Regions from separate parts of the Homo sapiens genome. Here all the other regions are linked to region 1. Evidence: fine-mapped expression QTL. A gene starts in region 1. Each other region holds a variant in brackets. All regions are shown on one strand. Distances are between the middles of the regions.

Region 1 (5,000 bases):
GACCTTGTGATTCGCCCACCTCAGCCTCCCAAAGTGCTGGGATTACAGGGGTGAGCCACCGCACCCAGCCCCCCTCTTCTCTCTTTGTAATAGAACAGTGTAGACATTTATGAAGCTTTTCCTAGCTTTTCAACGTCAACACAATTAAAGCACAATGCATCTGAATTGCCAGCCCCCCAACCCAGTGCAGAACAAATGGCAGGAGTCCTAAATAAAACAGGGGTTTGCACTGAGCTGAAGACAAGTGAGGAAGCCAAGCTGGGATTTCTGTAAAAGTGTCCCAGACAAAAACAGTTTGCATCTCAGGTGCCTAGTTTTTCATAGTGCTTTTTCCAGTCTACCTAAAACTATTTTTATATGCATCATTTCCTTTATCTTACAGTTTGCCTAAAGGCAGGGAGAAAGACAATTAATTCAATTTTTCTGGAGAAACAGAGATCCAGCAATTCTATGTCAAGGGGCATAGATGGAGTCAAAAAACTATCTTAAAGGCTGGTGTCCTTTTATCATCATAACAATGGTCGTTAACTAGTTGTTTGGCCAAATGTTAAGAGTTCAAATCTTGGCTCTGCCATTTACTAGCCATGTGACCTTGGACAAGATACTTGACCTCTGGCTCAGCACCTTCATTTGTAAAGTAGTTCCTAGTTCATAGTCTTGTCAAGGAATTGTTTGAGTCACATATGTAAGAAGCAAAGAACAACACCAGCATATAGTAAGTACTCAATAAATTTGAGTTATCATTTATGTAGCGCTTTATGGTTTACAAAGCGCTTTCACATACATTATTATCTCTTGACTAAGATCCAGATCATTTGACTTTCAGCCCAGGCATTTGGAAACAATTCAGAATACTGGATAAAATCCAGCATGTTTTACCGAACACATCCAAGGAGGCTAATACTAGGTATGGTGTTGCCAGCCCAGTCTTGTCTTTTTGCTCCATGTCCTGGAAGAGCATTCTGCAAGGTCTCCAGGATATCCCCTTTGCTCTGGAAGCAGCTACTACCCAGGAAGCATTAATTTTCCCTCATCCTTTGTACAGCAGGAGGCAGAATTAATACACATTGTTGCTTAAGCTCCAGCTGTCTTATCTCCCTGCTTCCAAACACCACTGGCTATTCTTTAGGAAACCAATTCCGGGCTCAGGGAGTTACACTGTATCATTTCCCCTGGTAAAACCTTCACAGGCCTTATAAAGCAACCTCAAAAAGCCACTCCATGGGTGCTGGTCACCATCCCTCCCCCATATTCCAACCAGGGACAGGCCCGGACTGACATTTCTGGAAAACCCAGTGTGTGCAAGGTTAGGTTACCACGGTCCATACCAATGAGGAAATTAGGCTGTAGAGAGAAGTAACTTGTCTAAGGCACCGCAGTGGATACGAGTGCTGTAGCTACGCACTTACCAGCTCTATGATCTTCCCCAACCTCTCTGAGCTGAGTTTTCTCATCTGTAAAACTGGGATAATGATTAAACACACTCCTAGGGTCAGTATAAAACTTCAGTGAGTTCATTCATTACGATTAGCACAATGACTGGCACATACAAGAGCCCAATAAATGTTAGGTTTTATTATTATTATTACCCAAAAAAGACTATCAGTTAGGGTGTACTCATTGCCTCTTTCATTATAGCAAGTGGGACCCTTGTCCCTGACTGAAGACAATGACTTTGTTTCCAAACGAAAGAGGGTTAGCATCCCCCAGCCAAATTCACCAGGTGGGGCATGGGGCATCAATATGGTTGTGGCTTCCACCATCTTTGCAGTGGGAGTAGTTTTGTCCAGCCTATGATACAATTCACTTATTATTGTGCAGTGGTGATTCGGTCCGTCTTTGAATCCTTTTATTGACAGGATATCCACTCCCTAATGAAATAAGCCCGTTCCCTTTTGAACACCTCTTATAATTAGGAAGTATGTTTTCTCTGTTCCTTCTTCCTCTACCCTCCTAGCCCTTCCTTCTTCTCCTCCTCCTTCCTCCTTTCTTTTTCCCTTCCCTCTTCTTTCTGCCCTGTCCCTCTTTTCTTGTCCCCTCCCAGGTCCTGCCACCTCTGAGAACCTGAGGTCCTTCTCCCCAACCCCTCTGCCCCACCGGGAAGGCACTATTCAGTCACTGACCATAACCTTGTAGAGCGCAGTAGGTCTTTAGTGCAGCCACTTGGCCGGCTGATTGGGAACTCAACTTCCGATGGTCCTAACAACCCTTTGGGTTTTGCAGGATCTTTGAGAAGCAAAACCTTTTACCTAGGCCTTACGGCTTGGCCTTCTGGTCCATTAGTATCATCCACCAGTTCACCCAATTTCCATTAATAACCGCATCTAGAATCACATGAAACTTGAGATGGGTTGATCTCCTGTCTTGAGGCCCAGCTGGGCGGGTATGCCAGCCAAGGAGAGGGCTGGGGCGCCGGGGGTGACTCTCGGGAGGTGAAGCACACAAGCAGCCCATAAGGTTGGGATCCTCCGTCTCCAAGTAGCGCGACTACAGCTCTTGCCCGCACGGAGCAGCCTCGGACAGCGCGGCCGCTTTAAGAGAGGGGCGGGGCCCGGGTACAGGCAAGTCAGGGCCAGCCCACAAGGCTCCTTTTCCTTTTTGATCCATTCAAAAATTACTCATTGCAAATTCCCGGACTGCTAGGCGAGGAGAGGGAAGGGGGCGGAGGAGACAGGGCTACTGCAGGCGCAGAGCTGGGGGCAGCCGGGGGCCCGAGTGGCTGAGGCTGGTCCCGCAGCGGCCGCTTGCCGGCGTTCTGGCTCCTGTGGCCTCACCAGGAAGCGTCAGAGTCCCGACACTGGGGAAGCTCGGAGCGCCGCCTCCGCTGCCGCCGCCTCCTGCCTGGCTCTGGGTCCCCGAGCCCCCTCCCCTGGCCCAGCCCGACTCCCTCCTCCTTCCCGAACCATCCGGCTCGGGCTCCTTCCCTGGCGATGGCTGGCCGCTGAGCCATGGCTCAGTACGGCCACCCCAGTCCGCTCGGCATGGCTGCGAGAGAGGAGCTGTACAGCAAAGTCACCCCCCGGAGGAACCGCCAACAGCGCCCCGGCACCATCAAGCATGGATCGGCGCTGGACGTGCTCCTCTCCATGGGGTTCCCCAGAGCCCGCGCGTAAGTGGCCGGGCTCGCAGCCCTCGGCGACCCCTCCCGCGCGCGCGGCCGGCCCTCGGCTTCGCTCCGGCTCGCCTCCCAGCGCCTGCGGGACAGGCAGCGCGCTCCCCGCTGCCCGAGACCTGTTGGGGGCGGGATGGGCGCGCTGGCAACCCGGGACTCGGCTCCGGGCGGGGGTGCGGGGGAAGACGCGGCGCGGGGGCGTTGGGCCAGGGCTCGCCGTGGGATGCCTAAAGCTGGGGGACGAGGGCGCGGGGTTCGAGTCCCGGGTATAGTGCTCAGCCTCCGCCCCAGCCGGGTGGAGCTCAGCGTTTCTCTCGCGCGCTCCCCTAGGTCTCCAGCGCCGAGCGCCTAGGGAGGCGGGGCCCTGCGGAGGACTCGGGCACCCTCTCCGTCTGGAATACTGGGCTGGTCTGGGATCCTCCGGTGTCTGGGAAAGGGCGGGAGACTGCGGGGCAGGGAGGCCGGCGCCCCCGTTGCAGCGGCTTCCAGCTCCGGATGTCGCTCTCGGGTTCGGTCTCCCCCTGGAGTAGGAGGAGCGGGAGCGTGGGTGTTCCTGCGTGTTCATTGATGGGGAGGATGGAATCAGAAGGAGAAGCGATCCCTCCAGGGGACCTGGGTTCTCGTCAGTGGTGACGGCAGCTCAGAAATCTGTGGGTGCCTGAGAGTAAGGAGGGGGAGCTGTTCTTCATCCTTCCTCTAGGAGAGTGGGGTAGGGGAGGGCAGGGAGAGCGCAGGTGGCTGCCCCTGGAGCCTGCTGGGGAGAGGCCTGTTTGCCAGCATAGGGTGGCGGCGGCCGGAGTCGTCTCAGGCCGGTCGGCTCAAGTCTCAGGGGCTGGAACTCTGCCTAAGAGGAAGCCAAGGCCCAGCGGCCAGGCCCTTCTCCCCTGGTTAATCCCTGCCGTGCAGATTTCTTAGGTGGGGACACAAGGCCTGGCGTCCGGACTGGGCGCAGCTTCTTTTCATCTTTGAATTACAGCACCTGAACAGGAGAGTTGGCCAAACTTAATCAGTGAGGGCCAAGTAAATGAAAGTCCTTTTTATTTTTTTCCCTTCTCACATTTTTTTTTCAGGTGATAACTTTATTTATGTATTTATTTTTCTGAGACGGAGTCTCGCTGTGTCGCCAGGCTAGAGTGCAGTGGCGCAATCTCTGTAACTTCCGCCTCCCAGGTTCAAGCGATTCTCCCACCTTAGCCTCCTGAGTAGCTGGGACCATAGACATGCGCCACCACACCGGGCTAATTTTTATATTTTTAGAAGAGATGGGGTTCTGCCATGTTGGCCAGGCTGGTCTCGAACTCCTGACCTCAGGTGATCCACCCACCTCGGTCTCCCAAAGTGCTGGGATTACAGGCAATAACTTTATGTCTCCCCTCCCTTATCTCTGGGCAAACCTTGTTTATTCTCTACTAACTTGGTTGTAATCTGTTAATCAAAGTAGACCCTTGAATTTGTTATTCTCCAGGCTGCTGGGACACGTTGGAGTGGCCTTAGAAGGCTGCAAAATGGACTGATGGTTTCTGCCTTCCACTGACGTCCCAATACGACTTCCTAATACTAGGGCTCCAGTTCCTGATACCAGAATTACAGGGAGAAAATGTGGGTTCTGCAGGGGTGTGTCAGGTGTGGACGCTTCAGGTGAAGTCGTCGGTGTGGATGATCAATGTGCACAGCTCTCCTTAAAAACTGGAGGTGGGGCTGGGTGTAACCCCAGCAGTTTGGGAGGCTGAGGCAGCCGGATCACTTGAGATCAGAAGTTTGAGACCAGCCTGGCCAACATGGTGAAACCCTGTCTTTACTAAAAATACAAAAATTAGCTGGGTGGGGTGGTGCATGCCTGTAATCCCAGCTACTTGGGAGGCTGAGATAAGAGAATCGCTTGAGCCCA
Region 2 (7,104 bases), 56 kb after region 1:
CAGGCTGGAGTGCAGTGGCACAATCTCGGCTCACTGCAACCTCCGCCTCCCAGGTTCAAGCAATTCTCCTGCCTCAGCCTCCCGAGTAGCTGGGATTACAGGCATGTACCACCACACCCAGCTAATTTTTTTGTATTATTAGTAGAGACAGGGTTTCACCATGTTGGCCAGGCTGGTCTTGAACTCCTGACCTCAAGTGATCCGCCCACCTTGGCCTCCCAAAGTGCTGGGATTACAGGTGTGAGTCACTGTGCCCGGCCTTCTTGTTTGGCTTTTGGTAACCTATTTATTCATTCATTCTTCCAAAAAGTTTTATTGCCAAATAGACAGCACCATTCACTTGCATCCCTCAAAAAGATCCACGCAGGTTTTGGAGTCAGGCATCTCTAAGTATGATGTTGGCATGAGTCTTGGCTCTGTCTTCCAGGAGCCATGTAATATGGGGCAAGTTCCCATTTTAGGTTTCAATTTTTCTCACCAGCCGAAAGCATATAATAATCCTTCTGTCACAGTTACTGAGAAATGAGAACATGTATATAATGTATCTAGCCAGTGTTCAGTACATGGTCATTTCCCATCACCTTCCCTTAATGCAGAACCCAGCCAACTTAAACATGATAAACTCATTCATGGTCAGGTACGGTGGTGCATGCCTGTAACCCTAGCACTTTGGGAGGCTGAGGCTGGCAGATGGCTTGAGCCCAGGAGTTCGAGACCAGCCTGGGCAACATGGTGAAACACTGTCTCTACAAAAACTACAAAAATTAGCTGGGTGTGGTGGCACATGCCTGTGGTCCCAGCTCCTCAGGAGGCTGAAATGGGTGAATCACTTGAGCCTGGCAAGGCTGCAGTGAGCCATGATCACACGACTGCACTCCATCCTGGGTGACAGAGCAAGGCGAGACCCTGTCTCAAAACAAACTATGTTATTGGAGACTTAGAAGTCTTCACTTTCCCATCCCCAGCCCCACCTTCATGTCTACGTTGTAAAAGAGGCTGCAGCAAGAGGGCAATACCAATATCTATTCCAGGGGAAGAATTTGGTAATGATGGACTTTCAGGAATAAAGGTTTGGGGGAAAAGCTGAGATTTCATCACTTACAAGTGAGCCGCTGTAGAAGCCAGTCAAATGTATTGCGTGGTAAGCGAGCTTTGACTTTACTAAATCAGAAGGGGATGGGGAACATGTGTGGGTGTTGGAGTGATTAGAGATTCAGTGTGTTTGTGTCCTGCTGCTTTGATTCCCTTATTAAAGAGAATGAAAATAAACCCAGCAGCTGCTGGTTAACTCTTTCTGGGTATAGGCCTACAATCAGCAGAAATGCTCCAAGTCATCAAGCATTCCTGACATCCTGGGTGGAATTATCTAATCTAAGGCTTTTGCAAGGGAGGAATTTGAGTCCCCACCTAGCCTTTTCTCCTAGAGTTCTGGAAGAGATTATCACACGGTCTCAAAAACTAGAGCTCTAACCTGTTTTTGGTTTATGTGTTTGTTCATTTGTTAGTTCATTCATTTGCCTAGATCAAAAGAGCATTCTCGAGGCCAGGGGCTGTGGGTCGCGCCTGTAATCCCAGCACTTTGGGAGGCTGAGGCAGGCAGATCACTTGAGGCCAGGAGTTCGAGACCGCCTGGCCAACATGGTGAAAGCCCGTCTCCACTAAAATTACAAAAATTAGCCAGGCATGGTGGCGGGCACCTATAATCCTAGCTACTTGGGAGGCTGAGGCAGGAGAATTGCTTGAACCCAGGAGGCAGAGGCTGCAGTGAGCCGAGGTCATACCACTGCACTCCAGCCTGGGCGACAGAGTGAGACTGTCTCAAAAAAAAAAAAAAAAAAAGCATTCTGAATCATGGATTTAAGATAATCATAATAAACAACATGGTCTAGCTTCTAGGTTCTCAGAGCAGAAGAAAGATAAGGCCAACAGTTAGAAGACAGAGGTAAATGCAGTTTAGGAAAGGCATTTAGGAGGAGGCGAAAGAGCAAGTCCCGGAGCGGGCTGGTGGTTGGAGAGATGGTGGGGCCACCATTGTTGTGCACGCTTATTACAAGCCAGGCATTGTGCTGCCTTCTGCACACATTATCTCTGTGTCATCACAACCACCCTGCAAGGCAGGTCCAGTCTCATCCCATTTCTTGAAAAGAAGGCTCAGGGACATTAAGGACCAGACATGATCTCCCCCACCTGAAAAGTGGCAGAGCCAGAAGTCAAACGTTCATCCATCCATCTGGTCGTGGTATCCTCAATCTCTGCCTCCAGAAGCGTGTGATCTTGCTAAATCATAGCTAATGCCGATATAGCCAAAAATGGACAAATAAAGGCACCAAAGTAGAAGTGGTATAGGGGGTGGAAGCTGCCCCATAAGGGCCTGCTGGGGAGAATTGGGGAGGGGGACGGGGCATGTAGAATTGGTAGGCAATGGGAACACAGAAAGCCCATGCCGCATACCACTTCCCTAGAGCTTTTGACTCTCATTCCATAAGGAGAGGAACCCCAGGTGGGTAGGCTTTGTCCTGGGGGCAGGGTGGTGGGGGTGGAGATGGTAGAGCAGCCATGGGAACATAAAGGCATATACCCTGGATTTTCAGGGATAATCATAATTTTCAAATCATCCCTTTTCATTGACAGGCCATAGAGGAAACATTGGTCTTGACTCTTGTTTCAGAAAATAAGGTCCCAGCAAAGTCAATGGGTTAGGAAGTGTGGGAGCCCTGTTCTCTGATGACTGTTGGAAACGAGATTCATGGAAGGAAGCCTGGGCTCTCCTGACTCTGTGCTTCAGTGTCCAGGCAGAATCTCCTCAGTTAATTCTCCAGAAGAGAGCCCCCACCCTTCCTCTTTATACACTCTGGCAAGGGAGCTCCTAATCTTGCAGTCCCAGGCTCCCAAAATCTCTGTAGCAGACATTTTTGGGGGTCCCCCATCTCCTGTCCAAACCTTGGAATTCGTAATCATTTTAGTGCTTAGGGAAAGAGAGGAGAGGTAATCAGACCCTATTCCAAATGCATCTCTTTCCTTCCATTTTTCTTTCGTCACTCTCCAGCCACGTGGGTCCCATCACAAGTCATCAATAACAAGATGGTCACCCCTGAGTCCAAGGGAGGCTCACAAGACTCAGGCAGAGTGAAGCTGAGCACAGGGCAGGATGTGATAAGCAGGCCTGAACGGAGCCGAGGAAGGCCGGGCACTGGCAGCCTTTAAGTGCCTTGCAAGGACATGTGCCGGGAGTGCGTGTATGCCTCTAAGTCTCCTGAGCATGCCCCCGGGCACTTCAGCCTGGCCTTGGCCTCATTACTACCTCATGCTGTGTAACGGGCACAGGTGCATGTGGAAAAAGAATCAAGGTTTTCTGATAGAACCAATTTCCTTTACTGGAGTTTGCAAATAACCTGCTGTCCTTGGGCCTTTGCATTTCCATCTCTAAAATGGGAATACTAATCCTGCCTTCAATGTCCCACTGACTACATACACCCCTCACAAAGATACTGTGAGGAAGAGTGAGTAATAGCAAAGAATCTTAAGGCTAAAAGAACCCCAGGGTTCATTTTTTTCTATCCCTTTACTTCCAGCCAAGTTCTCTACACAATAATACCCATACCAAAGAAAGGAATGTGCCGGGCATAAAGACCATCTAGAAAGGACAGCCCGCAGCTTCCCCTTGGTTTGAAGCCAAGTTGGAAGTTGTCATGCCAGCTGC[ATT/A]TTTTTTTTTTTTTTTACTGCATTGCTGTTCATCATCAAGTAATTCAGGGCACTAGGGGGAAAAAACTTCTCTGAAAATGAGGGAGTGATTTGCAGCATCTGTTATTTCCTTTTTAATTGAATCTGTTCTTCTCAGATACCAGGAGCAAGTGCCAAAGTCAGCAGTAGAATTCAGCTGTGTACATTTTGAACGAGCTGGAAGATAAGTTTATGAGCACTATACGGATGCAGATTGTACAGAAACCAGATGGCCATATTGTCCTCAAAGTCCTCTGGAGGGCGGTAGCTGACATGAAGCTCCAGCATGAGGAGGTGGGAGGTCTGCTGACTTTCCTAAGGAGCTGCTTGGGTAGATACACACCCAGGGTGGACTTGGATGCTTCCTTGGTGGGGGACGCACGTCACACGAGAGGGGCTTTCTCAGCAGCCCAAATGGACCCAGGGGCTCTCATGCTTGCTTCCATCCTGGCCCTGAGTAATAGGCATAAACCAGGGTCCTGTTGGTGCTCGCTCTTTTTCCCTCACATTCTGCATCCTGTTGAGCACCAGGAGGGTCACCAAGGGAAGCTAGGGAATTTCTACCCCAGAAAGTACCCAACAGCCCTGACTAGCTGGGAGGCAAGAGGAGAACTCCATGGGTTTCACAGGTACCTTCCTACCTGTGGTGTTGCACAAACAAAAGCAAACGCCCTGAAGTATATAGAACTCCACTACCAAGTGCAGCTTCTTAACAGCAGTTACATTTGCAGGAGAAGAGGGGATTTTGCTCCTGGATGAATGAGGAATAGTGGTACAGGGATGTACATCTCTGAGCTGAGCCCCAGGAAGCTGACTGGACATTCATCTTTCTTCTCTGGGTGGTTTTTTTTTTTTTTTTTTTTTTTTTTTTTTGAGATGGATCTCGCTCTGTCGCCCAGGCTGGAGTGCAGTGGTGCGATCTCGGCTCACTGCAAGCTCCGCCTCCTGGGTTCACGCCATTCTCCTGCCTCAGCCTCCCGAGTAGCTGGGACTACAGGCACCCGCCACCACGCCCAGCTAATTTTTTGTATTTTTAGTAGAGACGGGGTTTCACCATGTTAGCCAGGATGGTCTTGATCTCCTGACCTTGTGATCCGCCCACTTCGGCCTCCCAAAGTACTGGGATTACAGGCGTGAGCCACTGCACCCGGCCCAGTGTTCCTCATTTTCACACAGAGGAGTTGAGGCTCACATGGGATGAAGCTCTCTTTAGGGCACACAGGAGGTGCACTGTAGATCCCAAGAATAGCCACACGACGAAGAGAGGCTTTGGTTTGGGAAGTAAAAAGCCATGTGGTCAGCTGACTCTGCGGCATCAGACGAATGCATGTGAAATCATGGATCTCACCCACCTGAGGAAGGTGGGAAGTTACATCAACTGTGATAATAGATCTGTAGATGCAAAAGGCCTTGGAAGGAATATCCTATGGAAATAGAAGATATATTACAGCTTTAGCCTCTTAGGAGTGTGTGTGATTTGTCCAAAAAGATAAGCTTTATGTTAGCAATTATAAAGAAACTATAGGCATGTTGCATTTTTCTGAGAGCCATGGCCAAATTCTTGGTAAGAGTTTTTTTGAAAATCATAGTATTTTATTTTGGGGGCCCTAAAGTTTATTTATCTCAGCCACTCCCAAATCTGGCCACATGTCAGTCATCTCCAGCCTGGGCGACAAAGCGAGACTCCATCTCAAAAAAAAAAAAAAAAATGAATGTTCAGGGTTATTCCTGAAAATTCTGATCCAGTAGGTCTTGGGGAACATGGGAATCTGTATTTTTACTGAACTCCACCAGTAACTCAGATATGCAGCTGGCTTTGTGACCTCATCCAGTGCAGCCTTCCATCAGATGTTTATATCCAGGTTAGAAACCACCTCTGGATAACTTAAGCAGGAAACGAGTTTAGGTGGCTCACAGAACTATCAGGGGCATGGATAATCAGACTCTGGAAACAGGCAGGAGTCAAGGACACTGCTGCAGACACTTGCCGTGACCCCTCCACTCTTGGTCACCTTAGGTTCCAAAGTCTTTAATGGGAGTAGTTGATTGCCTTCGTCTAAGTCATATGCTGGGCATCATCTGTCAGGAAGCTGAAAGACAGAACATCTGCCCCATCAGTTTCTTTAGTGGGGCTCCCCCTTCGCTCATATTGGGATTCCCCTAAATAAGAAGAGTGCTTAGATACTGGACAGCCAAAACAACAATTGCTGTCTACAGTGTTGCCACAGTCATCAAGACTGCGCTTGAACTCCTCCATTCTTGGGGAGCTCACTACCTTACAAGGCCATTCAATTCTCTCTAAATCGGCCTTCCTGAAATTGCTACCTATTGGCCCTTAGGGTCAAGCCTTTCTCAAAATCTCATATTTAGGGGACACTGAAGAAGAACACCTTCTGAACTTCCTCTTCTGCTTTTACTTTAAAACCTGAAGCAAGTGAGAGGCAGACCTCTTTTTCCAGGTATTTGGCCCAGAGGCAGCGGGGTAAAATGGAGAGAGTGAAGGATTGAACTCAGTCCTGGCTCTGACTCCTGGTTCTGCTGCTTCACGGTCGTGTGACTTTGGACAGATTGCTTCACAACTTGTGACCCTCAGTTTCCTCATCAGTAAAACTGAAGATACTGATGGTGAGAATTAAGCCTGAAATGTGCTTCCTCTTTCCATCTTCGCACAGAGTGAAGCAATGTCAGCTGATGATGGGAAGGCAGGGTAGGATGGTGTTGAAGAACAGAGGTGTCTGGCAAGCCTGTGTCTGAGCCCGGGATGCACTCATTATCTGCATAACCTTGTACAAAGTATTTACCTTCTCCTTCTCTCATCTGTAAAGTGAGTGCAATTTTAGTACCCATGTCATAGAGTTGTTCTGAAGACTAAATGAAATAAATTTTTTGTTGTTGTTCTTGTTGTTTTTTGAGATGGAGTCTCGCTCTGTCGCCCGGGCTGGAGTGCAGTGGCGTGATCTCGGCTCACTGCAAGCTCCGCCTCCCGGGTTCACGCCATTCTCCTGCCTCAGCCTCCCGCGTAGCTGGGACTACAGGCGCCCACTACCACACCCGGCTAATTTTTTGTATTTTTAGTAGAGACGGGGTTTCACCGTGTTAGCCAGGATGGTCTCGATCTCCTGACCTCGTGATCCGCCCGCCTCGGCCTCCCAAAGTGCTGGGATTACAGGCATGAGCCACTGCGCCCAGCCGAGATAAATGTTAAATGCTGACACAGTGCTTAGCATTTAAATAACACTTAAGATGTCATGTCTTATTATTGATTGGCGGTTGAGGTGGGACTTCATGGTCTGGACAGACCTTGCATTGCTGCCATCAAAAGTTGCCTCCTTCAAAACAGTTGTAGCGCTGCTGTCAGTGTCTGTTAAGAATGAGGTGGTGCAT
Region 3 (7,104 bases), 160 kb after region 1:
ACATGTTCTATCAACCAGGAAGTCTCAAGTGCTCATAGTTCTATAGTGGGAACACTTAAAACTATGTTAGAAGGAGTTGCACAGACAGCCCTATGGACACACAACAGTCCTGTATCTTGATTGTCATGGTGTTACAAAAAGCTACACATATGATAGAATTGCATGAACTGTATCGTCACATATGCACAAACGACTTCTTGCACACCTGCTAAAATCTGAATACGCTGTGTGTATTGTACCAGCGTCCATTTCCTGGGTTTGATACTGTACCATAGTTATGTAAGATGTTACCATTGGAGGGGGATGGGATGAAGGGTTCATGGGATCTTGTCGGTATGTATGTATATGTATGTAACCCTCCCATAAATCCATAATTATTATTATTATTTTTGAGACAGGGTCTTGCTCCTGACACTCAGGCTGGAGCGCAGTGATGCAATCATGGCTCACTATAGCCTCAATCTCCTGGGCTCAAGTGATCCTCCCACATCAGCCTCCCAAGTAGCTGGGACTGCAGGCACAGGCCACCACACCCAGCTAATTTTTTAAAAATTTTCTATAGGGACAGGGTCTCACTATGTTGCTCAGGCTGGTCTCAAACTCCTGAACTCAAGTGGTCCTCCCTCCTCGTTCTCTCAAAATTACTGGGATTACAGGGATGAGCCACCACACCCGGCCCCATAAATCTGTAACTATTTTAAGATAAATGTTTTCTTTAAAAAGATTAAGCTGCCTTATCAGTAACAAAGCACTTTCAAAATATTGCTTAGGCAAATTGTCTTCTTGAGTGTGTTTGCTCCCCTGCAGAGCATTTAGTTAGCTTCCAGTATTTGCAAAGTTTCCATGTCTTTATAGAAACAGTCTTCCCATACCTTGCCATTTTCCCCCAGGAAATAACATCCTGATTGTGGCCCACGCATCTTCCCTTGAAGCGTGTACCTGCCAACTTCAGGGCCTGTCACCTCAGAACTCCAAGGACTTCGTACAAATGGTCCGAAAGGTAATTCATTCTCGTACTTTGGGGTCCGTGATGGCTAGTAGTTTGAAGTCAGTACAGTGACTGGCTGATTACCAAGTTCTTTGAAGCATGTGTTTATGCTGAGCTGGGAATATTCATTTATTGCTTCACTCAACCAAGATGTATTGAGTGATACTCTGTGCAGGGCACTTTATTAAGCCTTGTGTTAGAAAAACAATGTATGAGAGCTAGTTCTAGCTTCTAAGAGCTAAAATGTAGGAAGCAGCTAGGAATTATAAGCAAATTGTCTGGATTTCCCTGAGGGACCTTCTCTGAATTTCCCTGAGGGAACTTGGGTTGGATCAATAGAGGTCAGTCCAAAAGACAGCATCTGAAAGCTTAACTCAAACACAGGTCCTTGAAGGTAGGCCGAGGCATGCAGCAGTTTCAAATGAGGAGGCTAAAAGGCAAAGCCAGGAACAAGACAGCAAGACAGAAAACCCATGAGGCTGACCCACACATCTGGAGTCTTCCTTTCTGTGCCTGTGGGAGAGGTTTTCTGGTCAGCTGCCTCCCACACACTTCCCTTCAGGCAAATTACATACTTCCTTTCTCTGCCGCCAGAGAACCTGGTTCAAACTCAATTGCAATCTTTTTTCACATTTTTGAAAAGTTTATTTATGCATCTGTCCTCATTTGTAAGTGCTGGAAGACAGAGAATTTTGTCTTGTTTGTAAATGCAGCTCTGGACACAGACAAAAATAAGTTTTAAAATTGCTGTGACAACTGAAGTGAGGGAGAGCACAGCTTCAGCTTTGAATGTTGCAGAGACTCGTAAGGAGAAAAAAAAAACGGGTGAAACAAATTTTTTCAAATTGAAAAATATTTTCCATTGGGTCCAAGTATAATTTCAGAAATGTTTGAGCTGACTTTTTCTTTTCTTTTTTCTTTTTTTTTTGAGACAGAGCCTTGCTCTGTCACCCAGGCTAGAGCACAGTGGCGTAATCTCGGTTCACTTTAACCTCTGCCTCCTGGATTCAAGCGATTCTCCTGATTCAGCCTCCCACGTAGCTGGGATTACAGGCACATGCCACCACGCCCAGCTAATTTTTTGTATTTTTAGTATAGATGAGGTTTGCCATGTTGGCCAGGCTGGTCTCGAACTCTTGACCTCAAGTGACCCGCCCGCCTCGGCCTCCCAAAGTACTGGGATTACAGGCGTGAGCCACTGTGCCCGGCCTTGAGCTGCCTTTTTACCTGGACTTGCAATTGGGAATTAACTCCTGGCATTGTAGCCTTATGTATTTTGGTCCTCTTTTTCTGCCACCCAATTAAGCAGCAATCTATGAACAATGACTTAATTACTTTAGGGGAGGTCACCATTTAATGGATCCTTCTGATGAATCCTCTTGCAATGTAAATACTCTTCTAAGTTACCAGTTTTACCCATTTTATTTTATTTATCGATTTTTGAAGGGAATGCATTTCTACAAAGCCACTATCCATTTCTGACTGCAATTCTCTAGGGCCACATGAATATCTTTGTATTTAGGTAAAAGTTAAAGCATTAAACCTATCTCCTAATATCCCCTTTCTTTACGACTCTTACTTCAGATCCCATATCTGGGATTTTGTTCCTGTGAAGAATTAGGAGAAACTGGAATATGGCAGCTGACAGATCCACCAATCCTTCCTCTTACCCATGGACCAACTGGGGGCTTCAACTGGAGAGAGACCTTGCTTCAAGAATAAACCACACCAGTGAACAAGAAGGAAAGGCCTTTTGGAGTGTGTCTTTCTGTGTGTTTAAAAACAGTGGGAAAATCCACACCACACTCTAAGTGGACAGCTCAGAATAATTTAGCATATTTCCTTTCACACTTAAAGTTCTTAAGATGAGACTGTGTAAATGAGAGAAAGACTTGATTCAGAGGAAAAAAATGTGTTCTCTCTGGACTCTTGCCTAGCTCACAAGGCTTTGGAGAATTGTCTTCCTAAATCGGGGCACCTGCTACAGAAGAGAATGTTTCGTTCCCTCTGGGTATGCACAGCTAAGGGGCCTCATTTCTCCCAGAGGGAGCTGCTGGCCCGCTCTAAGGGGTGCAAGAGGAAGGAGTGTGCCCAGACCAGCTGGGGGAGCATTGAAAGGACAGCTTGGGGATGGAATTTTTTTTTTTTTATCTCCATTTTCCAGTTAGGTAGAGCCAAGCTGAGGAATCCTTTTAAGATTATTAGAAAACATGCCCTGAAGAGAGTTGTTCTTAGGTTACACATGAAATCCTACCGTCACTAGCCCCCATACACCAGTGTTGCTGGCTGAAGATACCCGCTTAAGGATGCTAACATTTACCCTGGTACTGCCACATTTTCTCTAGAGCAGCTGGCCCTTCTTGCTACAGCCCTATCCCCCCTCCTTGCTTCTGTGAAATGGGGAGACAAAGCACTTTTGCTCTCCAAAGCACTTTTGGATACTCAGGAGGAAAGATAAGATACATGTTTGAAGTATTCAATCATAGGAGCAAAGAACTTGCAAAATATGAAGTGACTTGGAATTAACCATGTTGTAGCCTAACGTGCTACTGCATTTCTAAATCATCAATATTTGCTTGTCTTTGCCCCTAGACTCTAGACTATGTTAACTAGTTAAGGATGTTACATTTTGAAAGGATGTATGTTAGATATATTATTTGC[A/G]GCAAGAAGTTCATTCTGTGCAATATGGACATGTTTGCAAACCATACCAAGGGTCAGGTTGTTGTACACTTACAGTACGTGTCAACCATAATGGAACATCCACAAATGCATCAATTATACCAGGGATGTATAGTAAGTCAGGGAACTAATATAAATGATGACAGTCATGGCTGCACTGCTACTTGTGCTGTCGTTTTGTTTGTTTTTCTATGATAATTTAAAATACATAGGTAGGGCTACTGAGGAAATTTGGAGAGCCACATTCTGTGGTTTCTCATTATACTTACTTCCTGCATTTAGAGGGAGTTTATTTAAAAGAAATAAATGACAATCAAACCAAATCATCAGTTATCAATGTCTGTTTAATTGTGTGACTATCTGACTGTTGATGGCCACAGATGATGGTCTCCTATGGTATAGTTCACTCTGTAGAAGATGTATGCAAAGTGAAATGCCAGCCCTTTAAAGAGACATTAGTTAGTGTAAAATGGATCTTTACATGTTGCAGTAACATTGACTATGTTTCAAAACTCAGATGCATAAAACGTAAGGTATATAAAAATACATCTATGCTTGCGTTTGAAACTACAACTTGATAACCCCTAGAAAGAAGAGGACATGAAAGGATGCTGGCTATATATGTTAATGAGCAAAAGGATTATAGTTGTTTTGTTTTGTTTTTAGAGACAGGGTCTCACTATAATGCTTAGACTGGTCTTGAACTCCTGGGCTCAAGCGATCCTCCTGCCCCTGTCTCCCAAAGTGCTAGGATTACAGGTGTGAGCCACCACACCTGGCCCATAGTTGTATTTTTTTTAGGTCACTTAGAAAAATATGTCATGTATTTTACATTTTGAGAAACAAATCAATCATGGTTTCTTCTAGCGTTGCGCAAACACTGACCCAGCTTCTGGGTATGGAAATAACCCTGTGATGATGTGTTAATATAAAATGTTGGGAGGGAATATTCCCAATAAAGGTCTTAAGAGAAAAGTCACATTACAAGTAATGTAATGGCTCTACCATTCATTCTTCTGGTATTTGTAATGAAGTGAATCCACTGTTTAATCAGATCCATAATCTTTAACAGATTCACCACAAATTTTCATGGGCGTTGAGTGCTCAGAATAATGCTTGAACACCTCACCTTGAAACTGTAGCAGTGTGTTCTGGGCAGTATCTGTAATGTATGAAATAGAGTCTGGAATAGGTTATCCACTCCATCTTCTAGGTTATCTTAGTTGTATGACGAACTGATAAATCTGTCTGACTGGGCTACAATCCATTGTTCTTAGTCCAATATGGACACTGCCTTAGGCAATGGTCTATATAAGCAAAAGGAGATAGAGATCTGAAATAATTTTCCGAATAATTCAGGTGGAAAACAAGAAAGATTGTATTTCTCTGCTTTCATTTCAATTTCATTATTTCAAATTGCTTGTCAAAATGGCCCAAAAGATCTGAATTCACATTAAGTTCCCCTTGCACACTTACCTATTTAAAAAACTAAACTTGCACTGCAACTGAGAAATTATTTGTAAATCATGTGGCATCTATGTATAATAAAAGAAAGAGACAACTATATTACTCAATTTCATATACATCCAAAAAGTATAGGCTAATATATATAACCTGAAGTTGCAGCTGGTTCTTTTTGATCTGAAGCTGATGCTTATTAAAACAAATGATGTATGGGGAGAGGAGAAGGAAGGGCAAGGAAGGAATTGACAGATAAGAAGCAAATGGTTTCTTGTACAGAGGAATTTTGTTTTAATGTAGAAAGTTATTTGAAATAAACTAGGTGAAATGAAATTAACTAAAGGTTTTAATCTGGGATTGAAAGCCTGAAAGCATTTCCTGCTTCTACAAGTGTGCCACATCAATCCGGTAATGCCCCAGTGTTATTCACAGACAGAACTTTGTTTCCTGTGATTTTAAAATACCGCGTCTGTTCCTCCATGGACCAGAGTAATTGGCACATTTTAATGCATAAGCTGGGGGTTTCATTTTCCCAGGCTCTCTTCACCATCACTGCATTGGTAGCTAGGAGCTTATTGCTTCACCCCAGTATGGAGTTCAGATTACAGTGTTTTCCATTACATTTAGATTCATAGAATCTGAATGGCTGATTAAATGGCCATCTGATGGCTGAAAGAGGGGCGTATTTTTCACTCTGTAGTGAAAGGCTTGGAGGAGTTTCTACTTTTTATTTTAATTATACTTTAACCAAAGAATTATTTTAAAGTAACCTTATATTTAAAAGATGATTTTGCAAAAAATAAAAAATAAAAAATATGCCTTCTGGAGTGATGTCTGTTTGGTAAATCATTGTTGATAATTTCCTTGTTAGTGGTATTTGGAATGCATATAGATTGTCTTGTCATTGTGCTTAACATTACCATAAGTGTGTCTTTTCCACTCAACTAGCTGTATTCGTATTAAAATGAAGTCTCTTATTTCAATTACCTAGTGTTGTTGGGAACTAATTGAACAGCTACAGTAAAAGAAGTTCCTATCTCATTGCCTTTGTGGAAAGGCTTCCCTATGTGGTAAAAGAAAGGCATTCCTCCGTAACCTAGGCACTCTGCAAGTCCAGTGTTTAATTTCAAAGCAGTGATGAATTGCTCTTTTGAAATTACTCTAAGTAATCCATGTGTTAGAATACAGATGAACCTCCGTTTGATTTCACAGCCTTCAGCACAGGCAACTGTTACTGAGTCTGCACGAACTTAGATAATGAGGTGCAGGGTTATTTGCATTTAAATTGCAATCCAGCACACGTGTGAGAAAGAAGAGGCACTAGTCTAAAAGGCTGCATTGCGGGGAGAGATGAGACAGGCAGAGGAGGGTGGGGTAAAGAGCGATTTAACATCTATTTAGGTTAATGTTCACTTTACAAAGGTGATGGGGGATATTTTGTTAGGTGATAGCAGAAGCTTTTCATTTTTAAACATAGAATTAAAATTGGATTTGCTTCTCTTTAATACTTCAACATATTGAATTTCCCTAGGAAAGTGACTAGCTATAATGAAAATTCAAGCGAAAAGGGAAAAAGATTGTAAATGCAGATGAAATAACTTCATTTTTAAGTACAAATAATAGTAGGATTGGTGTATGTAGGTTTAAAATTATAGTGATGACTAGTCGAACTTAATATACAATCAGTTCTTGCAAATACTTTACACTTAGCTGCCATTACACAACAAATTGGAATTTTCCAGCTGTTCAACTATCATGGACTCTGTACAGGATAGATGTGTATAATGGAAAATATGTACTGCTTCTTTCTTTGATTGCCACTCAAGATGGAAACACCATGCCAAGGCATTTTGGTTATACACAGATCATTCTAAACCTGTTATTTTGGAGAGGTGTATTGGTTTCTTTCTCATTTATAAGGCTATTGTATTTTTTTTTGTATGTGATTCAGGTGTATTTATTTGAAGACTATTTGT

The links.
Region 2: its variant is fine-mapped to the expression of UBASH3B in whole blood (INTERVAL, PIP above 0.99).
Region 3: its variant is fine-mapped to the expression of UBASH3B in whole blood (TOPMed, PIP above 0.99).

Annotation. Positions count from the first base shown.
Region 1 is chr11:122,653,102-122,658,101 of GRCh38, forward strand. UBASH3B (ubiquitin associated and SH3 domain containing B) reads left to right here and starts at 2,621. Exons shown (of 14, transcript NM_032873.5): 1 at 2,621-3,109. The coding sequence starts at 2,949. RefSeq lists an enhancer at 2,526-3,027 and a silencer at 3,231-3,280.
Region 2 is chr11:122,708,334-122,715,437 of GRCh38, forward strand. All of the region lies in intron 1 of UBASH3B (ubiquitin associated and SH3 domain containing B), which reads left to right. Among named protein-coding and RNA genes, the nearest start is that of UBASH3B, 56 kb to the left of the region's middle. The variant ATT/A (reference allele first, on the strand shown) is at 3,701.
Region 3 is chr11:122,807,177-122,814,280 of GRCh38, forward strand. It overlaps UBASH3B (ubiquitin associated and SH3 domain containing B), which reads left to right. Exons shown (of 14, transcript NM_032873.5): 13 at 891-1,000; 14 at 2,573-7,104. The coding sequence ends at 2,710. Among named protein-coding and RNA genes, the nearest start is that of CRTAM, 28 kb to the right of the region's middle. RefSeq lists enhancers at 5,416-6,024, 6,025-6,632. The variant A/G (reference allele first, on the strand shown) is at 3,650.